Linked DNA regions of Homo sapiens: region 2 is linked to region 1. The links come from fine-mapping of genetic effects on gene expression. Tissue or cell type: visceral fat. Region 1 holds a variant in brackets; the other region holds the start of a gene. All regions are shown on one strand. Distances are from middle to middle.

Evidence for each region. PIP is the estimated chance that this variant, and not a neighbour inherited with it, causes the effect.
Region 2: MRPL35 starts here. The variant in region 1 is fine-mapped to the expression of MRPL35 in visceral fat (GTEx, PIP 0.92). The same link has a PIP of 0.9 or more in tibial nerve.

Annotation. Positions count from the first base shown.
Region 1 is chr2:86,140,878-86,143,704 of GRCh38, reverse strand. It overlaps PTCD3 (pentatricopeptide repeat domain 3), which reads right to left. Exons shown (of 24, transcript NM_017952.6): 24 at 1,548-2,827. Among named protein-coding and RNA genes, the nearest start is that of SNORD94, 6.4 kb to the right of the region's middle. RefSeq lists a silencer at 2,245-2,539. The variant CT/T (reference allele first, on the strand shown) is at 1,647.
Region 2 is chr2:86,198,186-86,200,836 of GRCh38, reverse strand. It overlaps MRPL35 (mitochondrial ribosomal protein L35), which reads right to left and starts at 1,380. Exons shown (of 4, transcript NM_016622.4): 1 at 1,304-1,380. The coding sequence starts at 1,346. RefSeq lists an enhancer at 1,292-1,561.

The DNA.
Region 1 (2,827 bases):
CGCTTGAACCTGGGAGGTGGAGGTTGCAGTGAGTCAGGATCGCACCATCGCACTCCAGCCTGGGCAACAAGAGCAAAACTCCGTCTCAAAAAAAAAAAATTCTAGTTTGTTGTATGTACAGAAAATATCCTTGAGAAACAACAACAGCAGAAGTAGGAACTTCTAGCTCACAGTTTCCAGGCTGTGAATTGCGTCACCAGAAGTCCACAGCCTGCTTTTTGCCTTTGAAGGTTTTGGTGAATTGATTCCTGCTGCTCAGACTCAAAAGAGTAATATACAAGCCAAAGTGCCACATGTATTTATAATTGGGGATATATCGTTCTAGTGACTTGTTAAAATGTTGGTCTCTACCCACAAGTTAATTCAGCAGCCCTCTATGGGTCACAGCTGACAGTTCTAAAACACTGGTAATGGAGCTTAGTTCTTTCTAGTACCTGGGCTGTGAATCCCTTCAAAGTGGGGGGATGGGGAGCCTGGAATCTTAATGAAGAGATTAAATAGTTTTGTTGTGTATTTGATGTAGATTGCTATAAAACCCAGAGAACTTTCTCAGTTCATCTTTCTAAAGATTAGTACAACTGTCATATTGCATAAGCACTAACAAATTCTTTTACTCCATGAAGACCACCATCTCTACATAAAAATGTCAACTTTCTTCAAAATTACAACTGTTTGTTGGGGATTGTGTGTTCACAAAGAAATTGAGGAGGCACTTTTATCTGGGCAACACATCTGGAATCACAAAAGGGGCAGCTTCTGCATCTGTAGGTGTATGGCACTGGCCTTGTCCTTTGATTTTGGGATATATTGGTCCACCTTTGGCTTGTGTTAATGTTGTCAATAGTCCTTATATTCCCTCCTAAGTGGATTTACTTAATTCAACAAAATATATTTAGTTTCTGATTGGAACACATGCTTTGTGTTCCTTCCTGAGATTAATGCCCGTCATCTCAAAGGCAGAGGCACTCTGTGCACCTACCTAGAGGATACTAAGTTTTTATTAGGAGATAATAGGACTGTTCTAAATTCAGTCTTCCTTTTTCGAATGGCACAAAATTGCAAAATACATTACTTGTAAAGCTAAACTTCCCTATTTGTCATATTAGAAATGCTTATAATTTCCATTCGACTTGTATATGTAAAATATTATAGGTTATAAGAAAATCTAAGTTTCTCTTGGAGCCCTGAAATAACTTCCTTCAGATGTGATTATCTGTCTGAACTTAGAAGCAGCAATACTGAGTGGTTTATTTATTATTATTATTCTTTTTTGAGACAGAGTCTCGCACTGTCGCCTGGGCTGGAGTGCAGTGGCGCAATCTCTGCCCACTGCAACCTCTGCCTCCCAGGTTCAAGCCATTCTCCTGCCTCAGCCTCCCGAGTAGCTGGGATTACAGGTGCCCACCACCATGCCCGGCTAATTTTTTTGTATTTTTAGTAGAGATGGGGTTTCACTGTGTTGGCCAGGCTCGTCTCGAACTCCCGACTTTGTGATCTGCCCACCCCGGCCTCCCAAAGTGCTGGGATTACAGGTGTGAGCCACCGTGCCCAGTCAAGTGGTTTATTTTAACCTGTAAAACAAAATAATGAAGACTACAAGCTTCTGAATCTTAGTAGTTCCTTTACCAGCCAACACACCCACCCCC[CT/T]TGATTGCTTATTAGGAACAAAGATGATACCGAAAAGGGGACCCTGCTTGGCCAGGCCTGTATTTTCCTTCCTCGTGCTTAAAAATCTTCCTGAGATGTAACTCAGTAACATGTGCAAAAAGCAGCGGAGCCTCTTCTTGGATTCTCAGTGCTACTTCAAGGAGATGATGGAGTCCCAAGGGCCAGGGTTATCCGGGAGGTGGATATAGCCCTGAGCCATTAGGGCAGGTAGGCTTCTCTTCACCCTTTCATTTAAACTGCAAGTGAAAAGTCACACGACTGCCATTTCCACAGCAAAAATCATAAAAAGCCAAATCATCACTTCTGTCTTGGTTTCATCCTCAATCTGTTTTACTCTGAAATTACTTTATTGCCTCCCTCCTCACTGATGTAGGACAGTGTTCAACATCTTAAAACTCACACATCCTGATTTAACATTTTCATGTTTAATATTTCAAAATAATGTAACAAACTAAAACCTAATTTTAGACTGTCTTTAAGGCACACCACCTTCATATTCCTTTGTATTTAAATCCCCTGTTCTCTTAACAGGTTCTGGATAAAAGCAGTCTCCAAGTCCCAAATGAGTGGTGCCACCAGTTTTAAAAGTAACTTGCTTGGCTCAGTGCAGAACAGATCATTTGATTTAACACAGAAGGGAAATAAAAAGGCGTATTAAATTTCAGGCAGATTCGCTTCATCAGGTCCAGTGGTCACTACACCCCTGTTGTACTATAGGTCTATGCTTCCCTGGTTTCCTTCCCATTGATGTATCCAGAGGTTGGCAGGGAGCTTGAGGAAGCAAAGGATGGGGGCAGGGAGGAGGGTCACCTGCCCACTGCAACTCTTACCCATGTGAGGAGTAGGTTTCACTAGTCTATTATTAGTTTTGTTGAAGGACTTCTGCAGGGGTTGTGAGGCAAGAGCTTGTGAAAGGGCCATTGTTGTGGGAACAGACACCACGGGTACTTGTGGCAGAACTTAGATTGTCCTGGGAGTAAATTCTGTCATGACCTTTACTCCTCTTGGACACTCTTTTCGAGCATCTTAAATCACAGAGCTCTGAAAAACATCCTTGGGCTTGATCCCCAGCAGTCCTGAATCCTGAAAGTCCACAGCTGGACAGTTTTTTTGGTTTTTTTTTTTTTTTTTTGAGATGGGTTTTCACTGTGTTGCTCAG
Region 2 (2,651 bases), 57 kb before region 1:
AAATTAGCTGGGCGTGGTGGCGCATGCCTGTAATCCCAGCTACTCCAAGGGAATCACTTAAACCTGGGAGGAGGAGGTTGCAGTGAGCCCAGATCGTGCCATTGCACTCCAGCCTGGGCAACAAGAGAGAAACTCCGTCTCAAAAAAAAAAAAAGAATTATATAGCAATGAGAAAGCATTACAGCTACGCAAAATGAATGAATGAATCTCACAATGTAAAAGAAGATACTAAAGCGTATATACTGTATGAACCAATTCATGTGAAGTTCAAAACCAGGCAAAACTATGTTCTTGAGATGCACATATGGATGCTAAAACTACTATAGGAAAAATAGGCAACCTAATAGTAACTATAAAAATGAGAACAGTGTTTATATCTGGGGGGGAAGTAGAGAATTTTGATACATAGGGGAGAGGAGGCTTCTGGTAGTGCACTGTTTTGACCTGAGTGTTAAACAGGTGTTTGCTTTAGAACTGTTAAATCATTCATGCATACTATATAAAATTTTCTTCATATGTATTATATTTCGCGAACACAAAAAATACTCCACATAAAAAAAGCTTTTCTCTAACGGTAAAATTTACATCGCTGCATTTTCTTGACTGATCTCGTATATTCTCCCACAAAATGTTATCCTAACAATATATTTTGTGTGAAAGTAACTTACTGAGCATCCTATGGTATTTGGATGATTTTTAACTTTTTGCAAAAAGTACTTAACGTCACGGCAACTTAATTTAGTCGCCTTTACTTCTGCTATCTCTCAGTCAAGAAGTCCTCATACCAGCCCTTGTGCCGGGGGCTGTAGTTAAAAATTAAATTAGCCTTCAAGCTTACCATGTGTCAGGCACTGCCCAAAACGCTTTACGTGCATTATCTCATTTAATCCCCAGGTAGGTGGTTATGACCCCCATTTTAGAGGTGTAGAATCTTAAGTTAGGAGACATTAATTCTCAAGGTTAAAGGTCGTGAATGGCAGGTCGTAGCCTCTAAATCAGAAAGTTAGGTGAGACTTTTTGGTTTCCCTCGCCCCCTCCGTTCCAGTTTCTCTGGCTTCTTTTCTAGGGAAAAAAAGCTGGTAAGGAAGCGGCAAATGCGTGACACACAGGCCCGCGTGAGTCCGAGTCGGGGGACTTGGTACGGGCTGCCGGTCACACCGCCCCAGAGAAAATTGGGCGCAACCTTCTTAACTTAAATAATGACCCTTTTTGCTTGTTAACCTCCAGTCTAAACGCCCATTCCATCCCGCACCAGTTTCCCCTTCTGTGAAGGCATGCATGGAGTATGTCGCTCTCCACTGACCTGAAGCTGCTCTCACTGCACCAGCAAAGGCAGAGGCAGCCATCTTCACCTTCGCCTACGGCGGCCGCTTTGGGTTTAAAAGCACAAGAGCAAAAGAGAATGAAGGGAAAGCAAGGAGGCGGAGTCAAGGAAGAGGAAAAGAACAAAGTTGTCCACTCAACATTTATTCAATGTCATCTGCCGGGTTCCGTTCTTCGCCGCTGTAAAACGACTGCCTATAGAAGGTTCTACAAAATTTCTTATTAAAAAAAATTCTTGGGGCCGGGCACGGTGGCTCACGCCTGTAATCCCAGCACTTTGGGAGGCCGCGGCGGGCGGATCACAAGGTCAGGAGTTCGAGACCAGCCTGGCCAACATGATGAAACCCCCGTCTGTACTAAAAATACAAAAAGTAGCCGGGCTTGGGAGGCTGAGGCAGGAGAATCGCTTGAAACCGGAAGGCGGAGGTTGCAGTGAGCAGAGATCGTGCCACTGAACTCCAGTCTGGGCGAAAGAGCGAAACTCCATCTCAAAAAAAAAAAAAAAATTCTTGCCGGGCGCGGTGGCTCACGCCTGTAATCCCAGCACTTTGGGCGGCCGAGGCGGGCAGATCACGAGGTCAGGAGATTGAGACCATCCTGGCTAACAGGGTGAAACCCCGTCTCTACTAAGGGGTACAAAAAATTAGCCGGGCGTGGTGGCGCGCGCCTGTAGTTCCAGCTATTCGGGAGGCTGAGGCAGGAGAATCGCTTGAACTTGGGAGGCGGTTGTTGCAGCAAGCCAAGATTGAGCCACCGCACTCCAGCCTGGGGTACAGAGCAAGATATAGGGTGTATTACCTTGGAACACTATTGTTGCCAACTTGATCTCCCACCTATGGTGGCCACTTTGAGTCCAAAAACAGGCACATACGCTAGACAAGTATATTGAAACATTCATAAAAGCTCTTTGAATTGGCAACGGGAGTCATTGCGCACTTTTTTTTTTTTTTGAGACTAGGTCTTGGTCTGTTGCGAAGGCTTGAGTGCAGTGGTGCGATCACAGCTCACTGCAGCCTCGACCTCCTAGGCTCAAGCAATCCTCCCACCTAAGCCTCCTGAGTAGCTGAGACTACAGGCACACACCTGGCTAATTTTTAAATTTTTTGTAGAGACCTAGGTCTCACTATGTTGCCCAGGGTGGTCTCAATTATTTGGTATGGAATCAAACAGGTCTCCCACCTTGGCCTCCCAAAGTGCTGGGATTACAGGTGTGAGCCACTGAGCCTGGCCTCACTGCACATTTTTGAACAAGTGAGTGACTTGATTTAAATTTTGTTTTTTAGAGACAGGGTCTGAGTGCAGTGGTGCAATCACTGCAGCCTGGAATT